7 linked regions of the Homo sapiens genome follow. The protein of the gene in region 4 interacts with the protein of the main gene of each other region in a pairwise test. Each region holds a gene or a part of one and is shown on either strand. Other genes may lie near its edges.

What was found.
Region 1: the proteins of PPP2CB (region 4) and PDGFRL interact in a two-hybrid assay, tested with the Homo sapiens proteins (one large-scale study listed by BioGRID and IntAct).
Region 2: the proteins of PPP2CB (region 4) and HK3 interact in a two-hybrid assay, tested with the Homo sapiens proteins (one large-scale study listed by BioGRID and IntAct).
Region 3: the proteins of PPP2CB (region 4) and MLH3 interact in a two-hybrid assay, tested with the Homo sapiens proteins (one large-scale study listed by BioGRID and IntAct).
Region 5: the proteins of PPP2CB (region 4) and GSTA1 interact in a two-hybrid assay, tested with the Homo sapiens proteins (one large-scale study listed by BioGRID and IntAct).
Region 6: the proteins of PPP2CB (region 4) and PTPRJ interact in a two-hybrid assay, tested with the Homo sapiens proteins (one large-scale study listed by BioGRID and IntAct).
Region 7: the proteins of PPP2CB (region 4) and ZNF775 interact in a two-hybrid assay, tested with the Homo sapiens proteins (one large-scale study listed by BioGRID and IntAct).

The regions. Positions count from the first base shown.
Region 1 is NC_000008.11:17,587,216-17,590,715, reverse strand, and holds part of PDGFRL (platelet-derived growth factor receptor-like protein precursor), read right to left. Parts: intron 1,249-3,500; coding exon 951-1,248; intron 1-950.
Region 2 is NC_000005.10:176,889,347-176,892,846, forward strand, and holds part of HK3 (hexokinase-3), read right to left. Parts: intron 2,205-3,500; coding exon 2,042-2,204; intron 1,846-2,041; coding exon 1,691-1,845; intron 1,596-1,690; coding exon 1,476-1,595; intron 1,385-1,475; coding exon 1,289-1,384; intron 399-1,288; coding exon 299-398; intron 219-298; coding exon 35-218; intron 1-34. UniProt on the Homo sapiens protein: Catalyzes the phosphorylation of hexose, such as D-glucose and D-fructose, to hexose 6-phosphate (D-glucose 6-phosphate and D-fructose 6-phosphate, respectively).
Region 3 is NC_000014.9:75,027,468-75,030,967, forward strand, and holds part of MLH3 (DNA mismatch repair protein Mlh3), read right to left. Parts: intron 3,249-3,500; coding exon of another isoform or gene 3,236-3,248; coding exon 3,076-3,235; exon of another isoform or gene 3,075-3,075; intron 1-3,074. UniProt on the Homo sapiens protein: Probably involved in the repair of mismatches in DNA.
Region 4 is NC_000008.11:30,792,319-30,795,818, forward strand, and holds part of PPP2CB (serine/threonine-protein phosphatase 2A catalytic subunit beta isoform), read right to left. Parts: intron 1,964-3,500; coding exon 1,874-1,963; intron 1,761-1,873; coding exon 1,599-1,760; intron 1-1,598.
Region 5 is NC_000006.12:52,801,017-52,805,002, forward strand, and holds the start of GSTA1 (glutathione S-transferase A1), read right to left. Parts: upstream 2,801-3,986; 5' UTR 2,769-2,800; intron 1-2,768. UniProt on the Homo sapiens protein: Glutathione S-transferase that catalyzes the nucleophilic attack of the sulfur atom of glutathione on the electrophilic groups of a wide range of exogenous and endogenous compounds.
Region 6 is NC_000011.10:47,983,559-47,987,058, reverse strand, and holds part of PTPRJ (receptor-type tyrosine-protein phosphatase eta isoform 1 precursor), read right to left. Parts: intron 1-3,500. UniProt on the Homo sapiens protein: Tyrosine phosphatase which dephosphorylates or contributes to the dephosphorylation of CTNND1, FLT3, PDGFRB, MET, KDR, LYN, SRC, MAPK1, MAPK3, EGFR, TJP1, OCLN, PIK3R1 and PIK3R2. Plays a role in cell adhesion, migration, proliferation and differentiation.
Region 7 is NC_000007.14:150,382,330-150,385,829, forward strand, and holds part of ZNF775 (zinc finger protein 775), read left to right. Parts: exon of another isoform or gene 1-494; intron 495-1,471; exon of another isoform or gene 1,472-1,662; intron 1,663-3,500. UniProt on the Homo sapiens protein: May be involved in transcriptional regulation.

The sequences.
Region 1 (3,500 bases), about 13 Mb from region 4:
TTTTGAGACGGAGTTTCACTCTGTCACCCAGGCTGGAGTGCGGTGGTACGAACTCGGCTCACTGTAACCTCTGCATCCCGGGTTCAAGCGACTCTTCTGCCTCAGCTCTGCCTGAGTAACTGGAATTGCAGGTGCATGCTACCACATCTGGCTAATTTATATTTCTTGTAGAGACGGGGTTTCACCATGTTGGCCAGGCTAATCTCCAACTCCTGGCCTCAAGTGATCTGCCTGCTTTGGCCTCCCAAAGGGCTGGGATTACAGGCATGAGCCACTGCACCTGGCCACACAATATGAATTTTTAAACATCCATCTCTATGCATAATAGTTTTCTATAACATTTTGGTTTCCCATAAAATTCCACACATCATACATTTTCATAGAAAATTGTCATATGGTTTTGTCACATGGTTTCCTGTAAAATTTCACTCTTTCAGCAAATGTTGGTAGGATTTGCAATTTTTTTTTTTTTTTTTTTTGAGATGGAGTCTCGCTCTCTGTCACCCAGGCTGGATGGAGTGCACTGGCACTATCTCGGCTCAATGCAAGCTCCACCTCCCAGGTTCGCACCATTCTCCTGCCTCAGCCTCCTGAGTAGCTGGGACTACAGGCACCTGCCACCACGCCCAGCTAATTTTCTGTATTTTTAATAGAGACGGGATTTCACCGGGTTAGCCAGGATAGCCTCGATCTCCTGACCTCGTGATCCGCCCACCTCGGCCTCCCAAAGTGCTGGGATTACAGGCATGAGCCACCGCACCCGGCCTGCAATTGTTATTAACTGGGTAAAGAAATAAAATCTGTGACTTTTGCCCTTTGAGCTTCTATTTTTATGATCTATTAGGGTAAAATGGAACATGTCAGAAACAATGTGTAATAATAGTTAAGAAGGAATTTTGTTAACTATTACAAATCCTCAACCCTACACAGTTTTAAAAAAAAATGCTTACCTGAGGCGAGAATCCTTAAAGGTGTCCAGATACGCAGGGTAGCTCCACCCAATTCTACTCCCTTTACATCGAAGCTCTACAGTTTGCCCCGCCAGCAGACTCAGGGTAGCGGCGGGTTTCTGGAAGCGACCTTTATCCAGCACTTGCATCATGATAGACTGCGTCTTTGGTGCTGAATTGGCTGAGTCCCTGTCCTTCATTTTAGGAATTTTGGGCTTCACCTTCTTGTTGGTAGGTTTGATTCTATTCTCTCCTGGTTCTTTTGGACGCTTGTTCTTGGGAAGGTGTTGGCCAGTAACTGCAAAACGTAAGGAGAGAGAAATGCGCTGTAGTAATGACATTTTTGGAATATTTGAGGCCAATAACTTTTTTTTTTTTTTGAGACAGATTCTTACTCTATTGCCCAGGTTGGAGGGCAGTGGCATAATCTCAGCTCACTGCAACCTCCACCTCCCAGGTTCAAGTGATTCTCTTGCCTGAGCACCCTGAGTAGCTGAGATTACAGGTGCCCGCCGCCACACCCAACTCATTTTTGTATTTTTAGTAGAGACATGGAGACAGGGTCTCAGCACGTTGGTCAGGCTGGTCTCGAAGTCCTGACCTCAGGTGATCCACCTGCCTTGGCCTCCCAAAGTGCTGGGATTACAGGAGTGAGCCACCATGCCCAGCCCTCATAGCTTTTAGGTAACTCTAGAGAAGATAACTTTTTAATCCTCCCCTCCTCATATGTCAATATTGTTTTCAGTAAAAGTCATGTAATTATCATCTTTTGATTAATTTTAAAACATTAAAAAATATTTCAGCTCCAAAGATATTATTCAAATTCAGCAAAACAGTTCATGTATGAGCTAAAATTTGCCCTTAGAAAACAAAAATATTACTGCCTGTAGTTCACACCGTCTCATAGTCTCCAAGCAGTCACACAAAACAGCAGAACTGAAGCCATTCAAGGCTGTTTGTTTACTTTGCAGTCTATATGTTGTCACCATTCATTTTGATTCTACTGTTTAAACACAGAAATCTGTAGCTCCACAGAGACTGGGGACACAAACTGTGCTGAAAGTGCACGCAAAATATTTTGTGTTTAACGTTAGAAACGGAATCTCACTCTGTCACCCAGGCTGGAATGCAATGGCATGATCCTAGCTCACTGTAGCCTTGAACTCCTGGGCTCAAGTGATCCTCCTGCCTCAGCCTCCTGAGTAGCTAGGCCTACACATATGTGAGACCATGCTGAGCTAATTTTTTTTTTTTAAAGATGGGGCCTTGCTATGTTGCCCAAGCTGGTCTCAAACTCCTGGCCTCAAGCAACCCTCCCACGTAGGCCTCCCAAAGTGCTGCAATTATAGGTGTGAGCCACTCTGCCCAGCCAAGATTTTGAACCACAGTGAACTTTCTCTCAAAACAAATGGTAAAGCAGACATTACATTTGTCAGGGGCTGGCGATGTCTAGGTAGAATAAAATGCTTATTATTAAAGAGTAAATATTATGTGTATACTAATCTGAAGCTTACATATAAATTATCAAAACTCAACTGTAACTGTAGCAACGATTTAGAATTTCACCAACAAAATGTCTCTGGGGAAGGAGTATTTTATCACCAACATTGTTGAGAGTTGCTGGCAAATAGTGATAATAAAAAGCTAACTGACTTTAAGTTGCTTTTGTTGTCATTTTTGCCTTCTCTATAAGTAAGGCACCCTTATTGCCTGCATCCAGGGAAGAGTGCCCCCACTGTTCTGCCTGTGGTGGGCCACCGGACTCTAAAAATCTCAGCTAAGCCCCTTGCAGCCACACAGTTGTGTCCACTCAACAAGAATGAATAGGGGACTGTAGGCCAGGTGTGGTGGCTCATGCCTGTAATCCCAGCATTTTGGGAGGCCAACGCAGGTGGATCAGTTGAGGTCAGAAGTTTGAGACCAGCCTGGGCAACATGGCGAAACCCCATCTCTACTAAAAATACAAAATTAGCCAGGCATGGTGGCGCATGCCTGTAATCCCAGCTACCACTCGGGAGGCTGAGGCACAAGAACTGCTTGAACCCGGGAGGCGGAGGTTACAGTGAGCCGAGATCACACCACTGCACTCCAATGCCTGGAGACTGAGACTGAGACCGAGACTTGAGCCCACAAGTCCGAGTTTATGATGAGCTATGATTGTACCACTGCACTGCAGTCTGGGTGACAGAGCAAGACTCTCTCTCAAAAAAAGAAAGAAAGAAAGAAAGAAAAGCCCACCATTATCATGCCCAAGAAATCTGTGCCCCATAAATACTTTAATGCCTGTGAAATTAATGAACCTCTGGATTAAGGTCTAATTTGGTATTCTGTGTATCATGTAACAGGAATTCAAGCTACCAGAAATGACAATAACCATCTGTAAATCCTATGGAATTTAGACAAACAGAGCTACTTGTCTGATCCTTCTAAGCTATCACATCTTGTGTATCTATGTTACTCAGGAACATGAGATTATCTGATTTTGGAGATTATGCATCCAAATATTTGCTATTATCTATGCAAAATAATTTGACCTTTTGACCAAATAGC
Region 2 (3,500 bases), on a different chromosome or scaffold from region 4:
TGGAACCAAAGGTCAGGGCCCCCTGCCAGGTCACCTCTGAGCACCAGGATTCAGGGACTCATGGTCCAGGGTATGGTCGAAGGTGGTCAGCACTGGTCCCAGCGCCCCATCATCGCTGAAGGAGCCCCACTCGACGCTGACGCAGACGCGGCCCCGGTCTTCGTCCAGCACTGCCACATGCCGTGCCTCCTCCATGTAACACGCGTTGGTGCCCGTGTCTGGCAGAGACAACCCTGTCAAGGCCTGCTAGCCAGGCAGCACACCCTCCACCTGTCATCACAAATGGTCCATGGCTCACCTACAACTAGCCCAACCTCACACGGCCTGACCCCCGGCTCACAGCCCATCATGGTGCCCACTGTGTCGTTCACCACAGCAACCACGTCGATGTTGTAGGCCTAGATGATGAAGAGGGCAGAGGTCAAGGCTGGCCTGAGTGGCCAGAGGAGGGAATCCAGGGGATGGGCAGGGCTGGGGCCCTGGCTTTGAAGGAGATACATAGAGTCCATGAAACACATGTCTGCATGCCACACACATTTGTGCCACAGATGCTCTGGGCTCCCACCTTATAGGAACTTTTCCTCCAATCCCACCCTCAGCTCCTCCCTAACCCCCAACTTGCGCCCCCAGGTCACAGTGACGTCCACCCTCACCATCTCCCAGGACCAGGATGAGTTTCCTGAGACTGAGCACCTCCTTGAACTCTGCGCCTTGCCAGCCTCACTGTCATCCTGCCTGGCTCCCCAAGCCTGTTCCTCCCAGCACTGGCTTCTCACCACAAGAGGTTAGCCCAGACGGATCAGCCTTTGTCCAGCATCCAGACTCTTGTGTGTGGCCTTCTCTGAGACTAGATCATCCGCCCCAGCCCCAGCCTGACTTGAAGGGAGGCAAACTCCTCCTTCAAGCCCCTGATCAAAGAGCCAGTGCTTCCTCCGTAGTGCTCCCAGAGTTGTCCACGCACTCCTCCTTGACACGGACAATCTTTTATTAGAATGCTTCCCCATCTAGACTGTGAAAACCTTGAGGAGGAGGTCAAAGTCTATTCATGTTTTTTTGCCCCAGGTCCTGAATGTTTATTTGACCTTTCTTAGCCTCAGTGTTTTTTAACCTATACAATGGGAATGGTAGCAACATGTACCATGTATAGGTTAAACTGGATGGAGGTTAAACTGGATGGAGGACATGAAGAGAAGAGGAAAGCAACTCTCTCAGAAGCCCAGACCCAACGCATGTGTGCCAGGCCCAGGCCAACATGGGCAGCCCTCCTGTCACCCCTCCCTCCACTCACCCCCTGCCTCCGAATGGCATCTCTCAGCAGCTGGACCACATCCTGGCCTTCCACACCACTGCACCTAAAACCTTTGGTCCAGGAAATGAGGGTGCTCTGGAGGTAGAGAAGCTGGGTTACTCCTCTGACGGCCTTCATGGGGCTGCAGCCACCCTCTACCCAGCGTCCCATGTCCACTCCACCTCACCCTGTCCAAGCCCGTCTGGTGACAAGGGAAAGAGAAGCTGAAGCCAAGCTGCAGACCCTGTTTGTTCACAGGCTGCGCATCCAGGAACTCAGACAGGCAGTGGGCAGCAAAGTCAAAGAGCTGCAGGAGAAGTGGGGGGGCTCAGCCTTGCCCATCTGAGCCCTAGCCACCCAGCCAGGCCCCCAGACCCCAGAGGCTGGGCAGTGAGTGCTTACCTGCTGGCCAGCACCCAGCATCACCTCTTGGGGGATCACAAACTCCTGGCTTCTGGGCTCCACCCTATGCCCCTCAATGCCAGTTAGAGTCACCCACAAAACACGCAGTGAGGCCCCTGTGGCCCCCAGCTCCAGCACCACGAAGTCTCCTTGCTCTGGAGGGCAAGCAGGTCACAGAAAGCCATGCAGCTGGCAAGACCAGAGCCCTCTGCCCACTTCCCAAATTCCTAAGGCCTGCAAAGTCTGGTCAAGGGGCCATAGAGATGGGGGACAGGAATAAGGAACGTTTCCCTCCCCTAGATCAGTACCCTCTTCCAGGCCTGGCCACGCATCTCAATCTATGATACCCACCAGTGCCATGTGGGGTGGACCCCACGTATGTAGGCAGCATCCGGACCGCAGGGGCAGGGCTGGCCTGTCCCCTCAGCGCCTGCTCCATGGAACCCAAGAGGCTGGCTTGGATCTGCTGTAGCTGTGCCCTTGTCACCTTGAACTGCTGCAGGCACTCCTGCACCTGGGGAGAAACAGGCCAACATCTGGGAAGGAGCACCATTGGGCTGGCCAGACTCCCCACCTCCAAACAAGGCAGAGGCCTGCCCTGCCCAGCCCACTCCTCGGCTCTTCATACACCCTGACTCTCTTGCCAACAGCCTGCACCCAGCTCTGGCATCCTCAGAAGGCTCTGTCCTGGAAAGAGAACCCACCTTCTTCCTCCTCCTGCCCCATTACCTCACGGCTCCTTCTCAATTTCTTACATCCTCTACCCTACCCCTCCTCTTCTTTGAATTCAGGGTTTGGCAAGACCTTCTTCCTGCCATACCACTAATGATTGCTCTCTGGCTCCCCAGGACCCACAGCAAGAGTCTCTCAGTGAGTTGTTGTTGAACGAACAAGAGAATAAACAAATGCACGAACAAACTTCAAGTGTTTCCCTCTCCTAATCCACTCTCAGACTCTGAAGCCTGAAAAAGCCCAGCACGAGAGCATTTGGAGACCACACTGCAGAGGATGGTCCTTTTTTCAGTCAGTCATCCTTCCCAAAACATTGCTCCAGCCCTCACTATGCACCCAGCTGTATTCTAAGCACCGCACACACATAACCACCCAAGAAGCAACAAATGCTTTAGATTCCAGGGTGGGAGACAGAAATTAAGCACGTGAACATACAATTTGGTTCCAGTAGTGATGGTGGCTATTAAACGTAGGGGGGCAGGATAAGAAATTAGAGAGTGACCAGGGTAGAAAGAGGTATTTTTAGATATGAGTTCAAGAGGGTTTCCCTGAGGAGGTGATCTAAATGAAGGAAGGGAACAAGCCATTCGAAGATCCAGGGGAAGAGCAAGGGGATGGATTTGGAGAAGACTGATCCGGGAGTGGATCGGAGTCTGAAGGGGCAGGTGAGAAGGCAGGGAAGGCAGAAGCCAGGACACCCCAGGCTGTCACTCCACCAGAAGCCCAGTAGCTTAAGAGCCCCAGGGACCTCATCCCTGTGAGCAAATACCCTCCCCTAGATGACTCTCTCACCCATCCTTCAAAGAAGCCCCAACAGCCTCCCTGGATTCATTGAAGGGTCACAGCCTGGCAACTCCATCCTCCTCAGGCTCAGACTTTCCAAAGCCCCCACTTCCTGTCACACAGGAGTTCCATTTCAATGACCTATTGCCCCAAACTGGACACTTATCTTTGGAATAACAACTCAGGCACCTGGATAATAAGGCCGCTCCAGGGAGGAGAGGCTGGGAGGAGAAGCTGCCAGTTGAGGGAGATAAGGACAACTCAGTCCCACCTCTTGCTTTAGGAAGAGAATGGG
Region 3 (3,500 bases), on a different chromosome or scaffold from region 4:
CAGGCTGGTCTCAAAACTCCTGACCTCAGGTGATCTGCCCGCCTTGGCCTCCCAAAGTGCTGGGATTACAGGCATGAGCCACCATGCCTGGCCCACGGACTCTTACTAAAATAACTTCTATTTATTTTTATATTTTTGTATTTTTTGTCTCAAGATCTGTTTGTGGATAAAAGATCTTGTAAGAGATTTACTTCAGTAAAAAAAAAAAAAAAAAAAAAAAAAAAAAACCCAAAAGAACACAGAATAAGTAGGATGCAAGAGGCAATGGTGAACAAAGACTCTGGTGAACACTTTTTTTAATCTAAATAAAGATTGACTATAAAATAAATGACCACCAGGGAATTAAAAACAAGGTGGAATTAAAGTACTAGACAGCAACATGGAAGATGGGAGGAGGGTGATGGGAGATGAACAGTTTGTAAGATTTTGGTACAGTTAGGAAGAGGATAGAGAAGTGAATTACTTTTAAACTTTGATAAGTATGCATGCTAAAAGTTAAGGCTAATCTCTAAAAGGATATAAATGGAATATATAACTTCTAAACGAGTAGAGCAAAAAAAAAAAGAGAAATACAGAAAACTATAATAGAAAACAGGAAAGGAGAGGAAAAAGACAATAAAGACAAAATAAATGATATTTGCTATAAAAAAAGAAACATATAAGTAATCAAAATAAAAAGTAATAGTTCTCTCTAATACCTCCAATGCCACAGCCCAGCAGTAGCTTTCCAAACCTTTACCAAAACATATATGTAAAGTAATCATATTTGGAATGCAATCTAAAATGGACCTTACTCTCCTGCTTAAAAGTTTTCACTGGCTGCCTATAGGATAAAATGCAAACTACTTAGTAGAATATGCTAAATTATTTTATGATTTGACCTTGACAACCCATCTAGCCAACTCCCATCCAGTCAAAGATCCAAGTATAACTTCTGATTTCCCCCCAATTTTTTTTTTTTTTTTTTTGAGACGGAGTCTTACTGTGTCACTCAGGCTGGAGTGCAGTGCAGTGATCTTGGATCACTGCAACCTCCACCTTCCGGGTTCAAGCAATTCTCATGCCTCAGCCTCCCAAGTAGCTGGGATTACAGGCACATACCATCATGCCTGGCTAATTTTTTAATTTTTAGTAGAGACGGGGTCTCATCATGTTGGCCAGGCTGGTCTTGAACTCCAGACCTCAAATGATCCGCCCGCCTTGGCCTCCCAAAATGCTGGGATTACAGGCGTGAGCCACTGCACCTGGCCTGATTTCCCCAAATCTTAACTACCAATAGCCTAACGTTGATCAGAAGCATTACCAATAATATAAACAGTTGATTAACACATATTTTGTGTGTTGTATATATTACACACTGTATTCTTACAATTAAGTAAGCTAGAGAAAAGAAAATGTTGGCCAGGCGTAGTGGCTCATGCCTGTAATCCCAGCACTTTGGGAGGCCAAGGCAGGTGGATCATTTGAGGTCAGGAGTTCAATACCAGCTTGGCCAACATGGTGAGACCCCATCTCTACTAAAAATACAAAAATTAGCCGGGGCATGGTGGTGTGCGCCTGTAATCCCAGCTACTTGGGAGGCTGAGGTAGGAGAATCGCTTTAACCCGGGAGGTGGAGGTTGCAGTGAGCTGAGATTGTGCCATTGCACTCCAGCCTGGGCATCGCAAAAAAAAAAAAAAAAGAAAGAAAGAAAGAAAGAAAGAAAAAGAAAATGTTAAGAAAATCATAAGAAACAGAAAATATATTTATTATTCATTAAGTGGAAATGAATCATCATAAAGGTCTTCACCCTCATCATTTTCACATTGAATAGGCTAAGGAGGAGGAAGAAGAGGAAAGGTTGGTCTTGCTGTCTCAGGAATGGCAGAGGTGAAAGAAAATCTGCATTTAAGTGTACCTGCGCAGTTCAGACCCAAGTTATCCAAGGATCAACTGTAGATCTTAATTTGAGCCATATCTATTGATAGTTCCCTAAACATAGGATGTATCTCAAGTCTCTGATATGTATTCCTCTGTCTAGAATGCCCTTCTCCCCTCTTCTGTACTCAGCACTTTCCCACTATTCTTTTTTTCTTTTTTTTTTTGAGACAGAGTTTCACTCTTGTTGCCCAGGCTGGAGTACAATGGTGCAATCTTGGCTCAATGCAACCTCCGCCTCCCAGGTTCAAGCCATTCTCCTGCCTCAGCCTCCTGAGTAGCTGGGATTATAGGCATGCACCACCACGCCCGGCTAATTTTCTATTTTTAGTAGAGATGGGGTTTTTCCATGCTTGTCAGGCTGGTCTCGAACTCCCGACCTCAGGTGAACCACCCACCACGGCCTCCCAAAGTGCTGGCATTACAGGTGTGAGCCACCTTGCCCAGCCTAGTTTCCCACTATTCTGTAAGACTTTTCTGGCTGTGTGCAGTGGCTCATGCCTGTAGTGCCGGGGGTTTGGGAAGCCAATGCAAGGGGATTGCTTGAGGCCAGAAGTTCAGGACCAGCCTGGGCAACATAGTGAGGCCCCCATCTCTACAAAAAAAAAAAAGGAAAAAATTAGCCAGGCATGGTGGTGCGTGTCTGTAGTCCGAGTTACTTGGGAGGCTGAGGCAGGAAGATTGCTTGTGCCCAGGAGATCAAGGCTACAGTGAGCTATGATTGCACCACTGCACTCCAGCTTGGGCAACAGAGTGAGACCTGGTCTCTCAAAAGTAAAAACTTTTCTTAAGAAAACAGCTTTTCTGTGACATTTTCATTGACTTCACCTCCCCAGGCACACAAGTCATTCTGTGTTTCCATAACACTTCTGAAAAACTATCTTGGTGCATTCTAGACTCTTAGTTTTCATTACCTTTATCACTGGGAAGAAAGCAAAACACATACCTCTACTAGCCAAAGTTCACTGACTATAATTCTTTAAATGCCCTTCTTCCTTATTTTGAGCTAACTCATCTCTGAATTTCTAGCTCCTGGCACACCGCAGGTAAATACCATGAATACTTGTTGAAGAAAAGATGAATTCAGAGAATCTACAGACAAAATATGAGGTTACCATCACTCAGCAATTTCCTTAACATCTGCAGCTGTGTCTTACCTCCACAATACTCTTGGTCACAGTAGATCTTCCTCTCCGAAGTTCATTGGCTTCTCTTTCCACAAAACATAGTGGTACTTTTCCCACAAGGACCAGAGAATCACTAGTGTCTGGAAATACAAATTCAAGGCCCAGATCTTCCAGATTTTTGTGGTAACACCTAAAGAGATAACCTCAAATGTTAAAAAAAAAAAGAGTGCTACTTCATTTGCACTTCACTACTGGTTCCAAATACTACTTAATAGTTTTTCAAAAGCTGCCACAGGGCTTAACAACCGTATTGTTTTTCTCACACTTATGTGTGGGTGTTTGGGATTTTTTATTATCAAATTTCCTTTTTGAATTACAGTAACCTTTATTGTTTTTCTCTTTTCCATTGGGAATCAATCTGTGTCTAAGTCTTGTTTCTAAGTGTGTTTTCTTCA
Region 4 (3,500 bases):
TGCTGGGAATAGAGGCACGAGCCACCACGCCAGCTCATTAGCTATATTTTTGATATTTTGATTAATTACTTGATATACCAATATACCATTTTCCAACTCTTACCTCTAGTTTGTGGTGTCTTTTTCTTTTTCCTCGTTTTTTTGAGACAAGGTCTCACCCTTTTGCCCAGGCTGGAGTGCAGCGGTACGATCATAGCTCACTGCAGCCTCAACCTCCTGGCCTCAAGTGACCCTCTCACCTCAGCCTCCTGAGTAGCTGGGACAATAGACATATGCCACCATGCCCAGCTAACTTTTTGACTTTTTTTTTTTTTTTATATAGAGATGAGGTCTCACTATGTTGCCCAGGCTGGTCTGAAACTCCAAGACTCAAGAGATCCTCCCACCTCGGCCTCCCAAAGTGCTGGGATTATAGGCATGAGCCACTTTGTCCAGCCAATCATTTATGTTTTAGGTACATCCCAAATAACAGCTAAATTTTGATTATTTATCCAATCTAAGAGTCTCTTTCAGGCTAAAATTTTAGTCTCTTTCTTATAATCACTGATATAATTAAATTTATTTTTACTATGTAAATTTGTGTTTTTTTTATCATGCTCCCTTGTTTCTACTGGGCTGGCGAAGTTTTCTCTAAACATCTTGAAGCCACTCCCTACTGGTCTGCAGGGATTATGTTGTTTATGTTCCCTTAGTAGTTGTATAACAGTTAATATTATAGTGGAGAAATCTGGCAGACATCATCTTAACTAAGCAATTAAAGTTGCCACCACCAGCATTGAGACAAGCAGATTTTAGGACCACTTGATACAATGCACGGAGGAGGACACACCATCTTTCTATGTCATGACTGCCAAAAATGCATACATTGAATCCCTAACTGCAAGGAAAACATCAGGCAAACCCCAACTGAGGGATATTTCTGTAAGATAAAATGCTCCTACTCTTCCAAAATGTCAAGAATGTGGAAAACAATGAAAATCGGAGGATTTCCACATCAAAGTAGAATGAATACAACCTAATCTTTGGATTCGACTATGCACATACAGTATGCACAAAAAATTAAATTTTGCTATTAAAGACATTAGTGAGACAATTAGCAAAATTTGAATAAAGTGTTCATATTAAATAACAGTACTATATGAACACAAATTTCCCAACTGTGATAACTATACGGTGGTTATGTGACAGTGTGTCCTTAATTTTACAAAATACACATAGAAAGTTGGTAGTAAAGGAGTATCTGTCTGCAACAGATATTCAAATGGTTCAGAAGAAAGTGTGAGGGGTGAAGAGGAAGAGAGACACAAAATGATAAAGCAAATATAGTAAAATATTTACAGTCAGGAATCTGAATGAAGCATACAGGGAATTATGGGGTACTATTTTTGTAACTTTTTTCTAAGTCTCAATTTCAAAAATGAGTTATAATTCTGCTCTGGTCTACTAGTGCTTTCCCTACTTGCTAAAACCAGCAAGTTTTTCCTCTTTTCACCTAGGTAATAAATGGTGAGGAATGTTTCTTAGTTAAGTCATAATGCCTTATTACAGAAGTATATACTAATCTGAAATAAAGATCATTCTGTCAGGAAAGTACATACCTCCATTACAAGCTGGTGGGCACGAGAAACCAGTGTGAGACCATTGGCATGGTTAAAGGTTTCAGAAATGTCTTGTCCAAATGTGTAGCCAGCACCACGTGGTGAAATACCCCATCCACCACGATCATCTGGATCTGACCATAACAGATCACACATTGGGCCCTGGCCAAGAAAAATAAGTACATGTTACAAATTATTATCAGTCATACTTTATCATCCTCAAAATGTGGTTATATTTTCTTTTCCTTTCTTCTTCTTTTTTAAATTAAGTTTACCTCATGTGGAACTTCCTGTAAACGATCCAGGGCTCTTATATGATCCAGTGTGTCTATGGATGGAGAGAGGCCACCATGGAGGCAGAATATCTATGTATGAATTAACAAAAGAGAATGTATTTGTTTTACTAACTCCAAACAGTTAACAAAGAGTAAATAATGGTTAAAAGTGTCAGTCCAAATAGTGCCAACATTTAAACATATTTTGTCCATCATTTTTTCTTCTTTACCCCTTCTCTGGTCAATGGTATCCCCATCCTTGGGGACCCACCATTAAATTTCTTTTTTTTTTTTTCCCCTCCCTCCCTCCCTTCCTTTTCTCTGGTCAATGGTATCCCCATCCTTGGTACCTACCATTAAATTTCTTTCTTTCTTTTTTTTCTCCCTCCCCACTTCCCTCCTTTCTTTTCTTTCTGTAGAGATGGAGTCTTGCTGTGCTGCTGAGGATGGAGAGCAGTAGCTATTCACAGCCTTGATCACTGCGCAATGCAGCCATGAACTCCTGGGCCCAAGCAATCCTCCTGCCTCAGCCTCCTGGGAAGCTAGGATTACAGGTGCATGCCACTGTACCCAGCTGTCATTACAGCTTCTGTTGGTTATTGCTGATATATACAATTTTTTGTTTCTCTTACAGCAAACACTCTGATTCCTGTTACTGGCTACAATAAATTTTCAGTTCCTTCATATTTTCTAAGTACATAATCAAGTCATTTGCAAAACTATTTTTGTTTTTTCTTCTCAATGTTTATACGTTTTAATTCTTTTTATTGCTTAGTGCATTGGCCAGGACTTCTAAAATAAAATGGAATAATACAAATGTTTTCTGTTTTGTTTTTTGTAAACTACCTAGTTTCAAGTCCATGCTCTAGGTATTCTGAATCAGAGAGAATAACGTAAGTTTTAACAAGCATTTTCTTTCTGATTTTGATTTTTTTTTTTTTTTTTTTTGAGACGGAGTTTCGCTCTTGTTGCCCAGTGCAATGGCGTGATCTCGGCTCACCGCAACCTCCGCCTTCCGGGTTCAAGCAATTCTCCTGCCTGAGCCTCCTGAGTAGCTGGGTTTACAGACATGTGCCACCATGCCTGGCTAATTTTGTATTTTTAGTAGAGACAGGGTTTCTCCATGTTGGCCAGGCTGGTCTTGAACTCCCAACCTCAGGTGATCCGCCCGCCTTGGCCTCCCAAAGTGCTGGGATTACAGGCATGAGCCACCTCACCTGGCCTGATGAGAAGGTTTCTAATGTTTAGCTGATAGTACAACTGGCGTTTCTTTATCCACTTAATATTATTATTTTATAAAATAACTGAGTTTTGAATCATAAATATAGGAATTTTTTTTCCAAATGACTTTGGTCTGATTTTATTTTTCTGTGCGTGCCACGTCTGGTTTGGCATTGAGGTTATACTAGGCATACGGTGTGAGTTTTGAACTCTCCATCTTTTCCCAAGTTCTAGAACACAGAAATTATATGTTCCTTAAAGGTTTGGTAGAATTAGCCTATAAAACTATTTACACCTGGTTGCTATTGGTTGTTTACTTATATTGGACGAATTTCTGCAAGCCAATTTTAATAACTGGTATTTTACTATAGTAAGCTTCATTCAGCTTTTCAAACTTAGTGCACTA
Region 5 (3,986 bases), on a different chromosome or scaffold from region 4:
GATTACAGGCATGTGCCACCACACCCGGATAATTTTGTATTTTTAGTGGAGACAGGGTTTCAGCATGTTGGACAGTCTGGTCTGGAACGCCTGACCTCAGGTGATCCACTCGCCTCAGCCTCCCGAAGTGCTGGGATTACAGGAGTGAGCCACTGCACCCGGCCTCAACTAATGTATTTCTAAAAAGGTATGTATGACTAAAATTAGGCATCAAAATCTTTTAAATGTCTCATTTTAAAATATGGGAGTCAATAATTAACCTTTGGAAAGTAAAGAATTCTTTGAAATCATACTGAATCAACTCACCTGTTTTGTCATGAGATATTTTGACATTGTACTTTCTATGATAACTCCAGGAGCAATTTAAAGTAACTTGGGAAATGGAAATAGCATAATTTGACAGAGTGAAAGGGAGAGTGAAGTTCAGATGAAAGCATGGGGTATGCTTGTTTAATTGTTATCGACTAGAGTTCACAGTGTTGTAATTCCAATCCCCAAACTAAACTCTCTTAGCCATTGATTGAGGATCATGTTTCAAAAGGAAGTGAAATTTTATCTTACATAATATTTTATCACAACACTCCTGCTGATAACTAGCATATCACTTTCTCAATGTGAGGTTTCCAAGGGTCAGGCTAAGACTGAGACATAGGTTACCATTGAGCTTTGTTGGGTCAACAGAAAATGAGAACCAGAGAGCTCAAGGATTTGCCATGGGTCACACACACATGCTCCTCATTCATAGTCAATATCTAGGGAGTGTGTTTACCTTCCGCAACAACCCTGGGAAATGGCTCCTATTATCCAAATTAAAGATGGGCACACTGAGTTTCAGAGAGCTAAAGCACCTGTCTCATGCTGCACACTTGGTGAGTGTTGGGTCAGCCTTAACTTCTGATTGCAGGTCCAGAGCTTTTCCACTCCACCTCATAACCTGGCTCTCAGCTCCTGTCTGAGAAGTTGTTTTGTATTTTCCTATTAAATATATATTAGCCAAATAAATGTTGGAAGGAGAGGACGAGAGGGGAACATCTAATTCCTGAGTTCCTCCTGTTAGCAACTTTTCAGGGGCTTGCTTGGAAGAAAAAATTGATAAAACTGTGACTTTCTCTGATTTGACAACCTAAAAATCAGAGTGAGTTGAGGACTAGTATAATTACTTTACATCAATAATTAACTTACATCAATTAAAAAATGGGCTTGTTTTGAAAGGAATATAAGCTCTCATAATTCCAGGAGTAAATTAAAGGAGTTACATTTACATCTCTGAGGTGGTCCCAATGACACTGTTTCTTATCAGAGAGAAGGGAGAATGAGATAAACTATGACTCCTTCCATTATGAGATTCATAAATGCAGTAGGTTGTTTAATCTCTGAGCCTCAATTTTCTCTTCTTAGAATAGAGATAGTTATTTCTACTTTTGAGGGTTGTTGAGAAAGTTAAATGAGATAATGTACAAAAAATTCATAGTAGGAACACAGCAATGGGTGTTTGCTCTTGTCCCAGTGCTTGGAAGATGGGTGAGTCTCTGGACATATTGAGTAGCCCATGGATCCTCTTTCTTTGATCTATCTATCCATCAATTATTTTACTGACCAACAATCTATGTATATGTATCTATTTATAATCTCTGTCTACCCATCCATGTATGTATTATTTTATCTATCAATCGTTCTATGTATCTATCTCTTTGTAATCTGTCTCTTCATCATCTATTATCTGTCTTGTATCCATTTCTCTGGTTCTCTATATTTTGTTCATAGAACTCGAGTAGGAATAAGATTTTATATGAATCCAGACTTATATCAAATCTGTCATATGATGGCTCTCTGTTTCTCTCTCTCTTTCCTTTTTAGCTCCTGTACAGAAGATATTGATATTCACTAATCAGTCCACCTGGATTAACAGGAAATTTTCAGTGAATGTCCAAGCAGTGGGGCACATCAGTAACACAGCCTTGCTTAGCCCCATGAGGTCATGTAGTCCCATGGTTCTCAACCAGGGGGATTTTGCTCCTCTGCTCCAGAGGACATTGAGCAAGGTCTAGAGACATTTTGGGTTGTCATATCTGCGGGGAGGGAAAGGGGGTTACAAATCAGATAGGTAGAGGCCAGGGATGCCTAGAAACATCCTAGAGTGAGCAGGACAGATCTCCATTCAAAGAATTACACAGTTTAAAGGGCAGCAACAGTCGGAGCCTCTTTCTTAGCTATCCTCTATATTGGCCATGAGTTGGTAGAACTCCAGAGACAGAATATGACTTGTCTTTGAGCTAATTAGTGGCAAAGGCTCAACTAGAATCTAGTTCTCCTGACATTCAAACTAATTTATTCTAATTATACTAAACCTGAGTTTTGTATTTTCACAGCCAATATAGAATTACAGTGTCACAATTTACAATTGTGTGTTGACTACTTACACAGAGAAATAAATTTTTGCATACATTGCCACTTCTTCCAGCACTGATTATTCTCAGATTGTTTAAAATGCTACCATTTCTTTTTTCTCTTCATGTCATTGTTTCCCATACCATTAAATGCTGAAGCCCTGGTTTTCTAAATTCTTCATTTTTACAATTCTGTAAAGATGTATCCAACAGAAAAGAAATAAACAATTCTTGAACTGTCACCCAAGCACACCAAGACGGCACAATATGAGTAAAAACAGACTTTTCCTTGTGCTAAGGACACATATTAGCATATTTTTCTAGGAGGCTAGAGAGGAGGGTGTGAGGCAATGTAGAGAAATTTATAAGATCAGTACTTACTTTGTTAAACGCTGTCACCGTCCTGGCTCGACAACTGAATTCCAGGTCCTAATGTATTTATAAGCTCTTTGTTCCTCTCAATAGTTCTCTCCCACTGAAAGAAGAGTCAAGTTAGGGAAAAGCCACTCCCACACATTTCATGGCCAAGGGGCCACCTACTGGATTCTAAGACATGAGGCAAGTGATCTGCTTATCAGAAGACACTGGTTAATGTGTTCCTTTTCAAGGTTGGCAATCAAAGTTTACACAATACATTTCACCGAGATTTTGCTCTTTTTGCAAGTCAGCAGAAACTGGCTTTTTAAAGATGCTTTTTTTCATGAGTTGGGTGCAAAGACTAGGGCAACTGAAAAATCTCTATTGTGAGCATAGCTGGGAGAGGATGTCTGTGAAGGGCAAGCTGATGCCACCGTTTTCTTACTGGGTTGCCAAATAAAATATAGGACATCCATGTAAATGTGAATTTCAGGCAAACAATCAACAATTTTTTAGTTATAGCTATGTTCCAAACACGGTATGAAACCAGATTATACTGAAATATTATTTATTGTTTATCTGAAATTCACATTTAGGTGGGTATCCTGTATTTTATCTGACAAATCCAGAGACCCTATTTGCATATGCTATCCTCTTTGCGTCACTCAAATTGCCCATAATATAACAAATCTGAAAGTATTCATCACCTGGATTCATCAATTGCAAATAATCTTATTTCACCTATACCATGTAGGGGGTTATGTTGGCCCCCAAGAAAGATAGGTCCATATAGAAATCCCTAGATCCTGTGAACTTGATCTTATTTGGAAAAAGGCTCTTTGCAGATGTAATGAAGTAAAAGAATTTGAGATGAGATCATCTTGGTATATCTGGATAGGCCCCAAATCCAATGACAATTGTCCTCACAGCAGAGAGAAGAGAAGACACAACACACAGGGGGTGAGGTGCTGGAACACAGAGGCAGAAATTAGAGTGATGTGGTCATGATCCATGAAAGTCCAGAAAGGCCAAGAGCCCCCAGAAGCTAGAAGACGCAGGGAAGGATTCCTGGAAATCACTTCTAATCCAAACACGCTGGCACAATGACACACCAGGGAAAAATAATTTTGCATATAGTTACTTATATGTAATTCGCATATACCATCTGTATCTTCGCAGCCAGGCCTGAGTGGCACTGAAGGAACTGAGGGAAGGCTTATGCCCGGGTCCCCACAGAGCCTT
Region 6 (3,500 bases), on a different chromosome or scaffold from region 4:
TTTTTTGTATAGACAAGGTCTCACTTTGTCATCCAGGCTGGTCTCAAACTCCTGGGCTCACCTGATCCTCCCACCTCTGCCTTCCAAAGTGCTGAGATTAAAGGAATGAGTCACCCTGCCCAGCCAATAATTCTTAACATTAGGGGAAAAAAAAGTATTGTGACTGAGCTCAGTTCATCTTGCACACACCCAGAGTTATTCCATACTACTCTGTGGAAAACACTTCATAAATATTTGTCATATGGGCCAGGCGTGGTGGCTCAGACTGTAATCCCAGCACTTTGGGAGGCCAAGGCAGGTGGATCACCTGAGGTCAGGAGTTAAAGACCAGCCTGGCCAATGTGGTGAAACCCCGTCTCAACTAAAATACAAAAACTAGCCAGACATGACGGAGCGTGCCTGTAGTCCCAGCTACTCAGGAGACTAAGGCAGTAGAATTGCTTGAACCCGGGAGGCGGAGGTTGCAGTAAGTGGAGATCACGCCACTGCACTCCAGCCTAAGCAACAGAGTGAGACTCCGTCTTAAAAAAAGAAAAAATTGTCATATGAACTAATGATCTGGGGCCTCATTTCTTCTCTCCAAGTAACAGCAGCAGCCACAACTAGCAGTTGGGCCTTGCTTTAGGTGTTACGTAGCAATTCCTTTTCTATCTTATTTGATCCTCTCAACCACCCAGTGAAGCAGGAAGTGTTAGTCCCATTTTCCAGATAAGGAAATGAGAAGTCACAGAGGTTAAGTGACTTGCTGAGTTTATGCAGTGGCAGAGCAAAGACCCAAACCCAGGTCTTTCCATCCCAGACCCCAGTCTATCTCCACAAAGGCAGACTTGCCTTGTAAACTGAGGCCCCAAAGAAATATAAGCAGGAAAGAGGGCACCTGGGTTCTCTGTGTTACAAATGGAGCAGATCATACAGGGTTTAGGACACAAAGAACCCAAAATAAAGGTAGCATGTCCCTGCAGTCCTGGCTACTTGGAAGGATGAAGAGGGATGTCAACTGGACCCAGGAGTTCGAGTCCAGCCTGGGCAACACAGCAAGACTGTCTAAAAAATGTCTGGGCCAGGTGCGGTGGCTCAGGCCTGTAATCCCAGCACTTTGGGAGGCCGAGGTGGGCGGATCACCTGAGGTTGGGAGTTCAAGACCAGCCTGGTCAACATGGCGAAACCTCATCTCTACTAAAAATACAAAAATTAGCTGCGCATGGTAGCGCACGTCTGTAATCCCAGCTACTCAGCAGGCTGAGGCAGGAGAATCGCTTGAACCCGGGAGATGGAGGTTGCAGTGAGCCGAGATCGTGCCACAGCACTCCAGCCCAGGCAACAGAGTGAGACTTCGTCTCAATAAATAAATAAATAAATAAATAAATAAATAAATAAATAAATAAATGTCTGCCACCTCCTCTCTTAGCTGCACACAGAAAACCTTCTCCATGACTTTTTACAGCACAGGATGGTAAATTGGGGCAGTGGAGACATCAGCCCTGGCTCCGCCACGTAGTAGTTAATGAATCTATAGTAAATTATTTTTCTTTTTTTTTATTTCTCTGTGAAGATTCCAGAAGTATACAGTTAAGTTCTGAACCTCAGTTTTCTCTCAGATAAAATAAAAACATGGCTGGGTGCAGTGGTTCATGCCTGTAATCCCAACACTTTGGGGAGCCAAGGTGGGCAGATCACTTGAGCCCAGAGGTTCAAGACCAGACTGGGCAACATAGCGAGACACCATCTCTATTAAAAAAAAAAATTAGCCAGGAATGGTAGCACACGCCTTTAGTCCCAGATACTTGAGAGGCTAAAACGAGAGGAGCCCTTGAGCCCAGGAGGTTGAGATTGCAGTGAATTACGTTTGTACCACTGCACTCCAGCCTGGGTGACAAAGCAAGACCCTGTCTCTTAAAAACAAAAACAGGCCGGGCACGGTGGCTCACGCCTGTAATCCCAACACTTTGGGAGGCCGAGGTGGGCAGATCATGAGGTCAGGAGATCAAGACCATCCTGGCCAACATGCTGAAACCCTGTCTCTAATAAAAATCCAAAAATTAACTGGGCATGGCGGCACGTGCCTGTAATCCCAGGTACTTGGGAGGCTGAGGCAGGAGAATCCCTGGAACCCAGGAGGCGGAGGTTGCAGTGAACCAAGATCACACCACCGTACTCCAGCCTGGCAACAGAGCTAGACTTCATCTCAAAAAAAAAAAAAGGCCGGGCACAGTGGCTCACGCCTATAATCCCTGCACTTTGTGAGGCCAAGGCAGGCAGATCACCTACGGTCAGGAGTTCAAGACCAGCCTGGCCAACATGGTGAAACCCCATCTCTACTAAAAATACAAAAAGTAGCCAGGTATGGCGGCATACGCCTGTAATCCCAGCTACTCGGGAGGCTGAGGTAAGAGAATCACTTGAACCCAGGAGGTGGAGGTTGCGGTGAGCCAAGATTGCACCATTGCACTCCAGCCTGGGTGACAGAGTGGGACTCCCTATCAAAAAAAAAAACAAACAAATAAACAAGAACAGCACCTACCTCTTGGTATTTCTGAAATGGCCAAATGAAATAATGCATTAAAACCCTTAGCACACAGTGCCTGTCATGCATAATGTTACCTATTAATTATAATATCATCAGTGGCATTATATTAGAAGGGAAACACACAGAAAATTGCCTCTTATCCTGCACTCAAAATAATTCCCTAGCCCAAGAAGTGAATGAACTGAGAAGTAATTACTGATGATCCTCTGGCTACACCCAGGCCTACGGTTGTTCAGCCACTCTGCCTCAGCCCCAACCTCAAGCAAAAATTACTTTTAGGAGCTAAATAACCCCTTTGCTGACCAAAATTGCTCATTTGGAAGCCAGGATCCTCTCTGCTTAGGAAAGCTTGGGTATTCCATGGTTATCTTTATCGTGGGGCCCAACTTGAAGTCAGCTCAAAGTCACGGTCTAACCATAAACCAATTTGCTGTTTTCGTAAACTGTCTGCAAACAAAACATAATCGTTTGGTTTTCCCGTTGTCCTGAAGCAAAACAAAAATATTTAAAGTCACTCATATGAGAATCTAACAAGCAGTTTAAAGAGGAGTCAAAATATACTTTGTACTCTGGATGGAACAGGTAAGGAATCAGGCTTAAGGATTAGCCATGAGAGATAATAAACCCAGTTATTATTCACCAGGAAACAAGAAAGTGAAGATAAAACAAAACCAAAACACTACAAGACCAATAAAACAGCTATCAGTCACCAGCTTTTTTTTTTCATTTATTCTTTTAAAATCAGCCCACATCAAGCTGATTTCTTAAAGAACCTGTCAGGATTAAATTTCTCAAGGAGGCAGGAGGAAAACTGCTTTGTCACATTGCCTAAAACATACACACAAACCAAAACTACTGTGCAAAACTGCTATGAGAATGGGAGGAGTCAGACACTGCAACTAGCAAAGTCCTCATGTTGGAATCATCTCTGACCGTCCTTCCTGTCTTAGAAAAGGGGAATGAGATGCCAGTT
Region 7 (3,500 bases), on a different chromosome or scaffold from region 4:
CAAACTCAGGGAGCAGGTATTTCCGTTCACCTGCGCCTTCAAGAACCTGAGCTCAAAGCGCTGCAATGACTGGCCAGGGACTAGCAGCGGCTCAGTGGTGGGTGGGCTGGGACTTGGGGTTCTTGATTAAGACATGGGGTCCTGAGGGGAGGGACCAGGAAGGGTGGCCTTGAGAAGGACATCCCTGCCAGCCTCAGGCAGTGGGCTTCTAGGGGGAGACTAGGGCTGAGGAGCCAGCCAGGTGGCGGCTGAGGGTCACCCAAAGATGGCTGAAGGGGAGAGGGCCCGCTGCATCCCCTTGGGCCAGAGCCCACAGGCCAGGCCCTGAGGATCTTAGGCTGCACCAGGCTTGCCGGACACAGGCTCATTGTCTCTAGGGCTTTCTGTCTTGCTGTAACGTCTCTCCAGCCAGCTGCAGCTCCTGCTGACTTATCCCACCCCAGCGCAGGTCATCCAACGGTGACTTATGGCCCCGGCCTCCTGGCTCGATGAGGGTATGTTGCTTCTGTTTCTACCTCTCTGAGTTCTTTTCCTCGGAGCAAGTGACCCTGATGGGATGGCCATGGGTGTACAAGGATACTTGTGTCATGGGTGGCTTTGCAGTTCTGTGTTCCTAAGTGTGCTGTGCAGTGATTCGTGCTGCCCTGGTTCACAGTGGCACGTTTGTGTGTCTGTGGATCTGTAGGTGTGTCTGTGAGTTTTAAAAAATATCTCACATTCTCTGTATTTGCATAGACAGTTTTGCAGGTGTTCTCACGTAGTTTTGTGTCTTTGAACTTTTGTTTACTTAGCTGTATTTAGATATGATTGTATCTGGGTGTGTTTGTGTGTGGTTTAGCATTTACATCAGTTTCTTATGTCCCTATGATCATATATTTAAATTAAAAACATCTGCTATTAACTGAAATCAGAGGCAGAGAATACCATTGCCTGGTCCTGAGGGATTTCTTAATAGTGACAGAAGACTGGAGCCTGAGGAGCCACCTCTTGGGTCCTCCATTGTTTCATTCACTCATCCGTTCATTCATTCAATACACATTACACACCTTCTGCATATGAGGGACGCGCAGGTGTGGGAGCAAGCCCCCGCTCCCTGGGGCTAACCTGAGTGAGGGGTCTCACAGGGAGAGAGGACTGGGTGAGGACATAGCAGTCAGGTATGGGCTGCAGGAGGGCAGGGAGGCGCTGGGGACCCGGTGGAGTTGAGAAGGATGAGGCTATAGAAAGGGGCAGCATGGCAGGGAGGCATTGGCTGGGCATGGGCTGGGACTGGAGAGGCCAGTTTCTGTGGGGGTCTCCTATGGAAGACCAGCTGAGCTGTGCCCAGCAAGTGAGGACCTGCTGGGACCTCAGGGCTGAGAAGGGCCTGATACTGGGCCTTTGGCTGGGGTTTGGGGAGCTGCCCCCACCCCCAAAAGCCTTAGCGCCTAGTGGCGGATCCTGCTCCCGCTCCACTAGCAGCAGATGATACCTGTGGCATGGTCTGCTTCTGACTGCCCGACCTGGGGCGCTGAGGCTGTGAGAGCTGTGCTGGGCTGGTGGGAGGTTCCAGGGGCGGCGATGGGGAGGACCTTGCCTCTTTCTGGCCTGTGGCCTTTCTCCTCCCCCAGCTGCTGTCTGGCCGCCCCACCCCCAAGTCTCTGCCACAACCAAAGCTCCTTTGTTGCCTCCCCCTGCCCCGGGCCTCTCCACCTGCTGCTAGCTCAATCCCCTCTTTGTGTGGTTGGTCTTCAGTTGTCATGGCAGCTGGGCCCAGGCTGAGGCCTGCCCACTGTGAGGCTCTTAACTGAACTGCAGCCTGACCCGGTGCGCGGAGGGCCGGGCCAGGGCCAGGCGTGGGAAGGGGGCCCCTGTGTGTCCTGCTCCCCTCAGAGCCCGAGGGGCAGCAGAGAGGAAAGGTGGTCCGGTAGGGGCCCGGGGGCCCTTGTGCGATAGACAAAGCGGCCTTCCAAGACTTGGTGTGGGCACTGGTGGGAGATGGCGCATCTGGCCCTTGATGCCTGTCTTCCAGCCGGGGCGCTTTGCTGGGCAGCCTGCTCACCTGGCTCCTGGGTGTCTCCAGGTGGCTGAGGACATGTCAGGATGGTAGGTTAGGAGGGGCCCGCCATGCACAGAGCAGAGTGAAAGGCAGAATAGGAGAGAAGCTTAGGGTGGGGACGTGTGTGTCTGGCCAGCCTGGAACATGACACATGGAGGGCTTTCCTGGATTTTGTCTGTAGGACACCTGCTGTGCCATTTCCCAGACATAGCCCACCTGAGCACACAGGTAGAGGCGGGTCCCCAAAGACTTGGCCTCCCCTCATTCCTGTCCTCTGTGTTTCCCCCTTTGAATTTCTCACTTCTTCCTCTTGGGTCCTCTTCCTTCTGTCTCCATTTCTGTTCTTACGTAAGCCACAGGCTGCTTCCCCTCGAGCCCTGGTATGGCCCGAGACAGAGGCACCGAGGCTTGAGGGAGGAGCTGCTCTGGGAGGTCCCGGACAGTGGAAGGCCTGCTACTACCTGGAGTGGCTGTTAGGTCCTAATACCTCTTGGGAGGCAGGGTGGGTGAAGTAGGACTGTCTTTGATTTGCCTTGGGGGTCTCGCTCTGTGGAGACCCAGGCCCATCCTTCTGTCCTCCTGAATTTGTGGCCTGGGCTCTGCCCTCCTCGGTCTGAGTTCCCCTTACCAAGGTGGCTTCTCTGTCCACTAGCCCCTCTGCGCCTCTTCAGGTGGATGTTAAGTCCAGTTGGTGAGAGGTTTCCCAAGATGTGGCATGCAGAAGCTCACAGAGTGGCCCCAAGGGAGGAGGGTGGCGAGGGAGGGAGGAGCCCCCAGCACCCATCAGAGCCCCACCAGGGGCTCCTCCCGCCCCCTTCCCCACTGCTCGCCTTTTCTCTGCACCACAAGCAGGTTCTGTAAGAAACCATGGTAGGCATGCGTACAGGCCCCTGTTGGGGAAATAGAATTGAAAACAAAATCTCTTGCCAACCCAGAAAAGCTCTTTGCAAAAGTAGAAGAGAAAAACAGCTTTTAAAAGATTGAATGTGCATGAAACCAGAATGTGGTGCGCACCATGGACAATCCCCCGAGCAACTGCAAAGACGGGAGCTCTGAGCCTGCAATACCCCAAGCGACTGCAAAGACGGGAGCTCTGAGCCTGCAATACCCCGAGTGACTGCAAAGACGGGAGCTCTGAGCCTGCAATACCCCGAATGACTGCAAAGACGGGAGCTCTGAGCCTGCAATCCCTGAGTAACTGCAAAGACGGAAGCTCTCAGCCTGCATGTAGCCGGCAGGTGCAGCCCGTTACAGACATGTTCTCAGGATAAACAGCAACCAGCCCTCCAGCAAGAGGACTGGACATTACCATTTGTCACACGCAGGCAGGTCGTCCTAAATTCACCTCATAATTGGAGTGACCATCTGTGTTAGCTAATTGCCTTTACCCACAGGAAAAATAAAGTTCTTATATTTTTATGACAGGAGATAGTTTTGTGATTTGGAGCCAGGCACCTGCTGA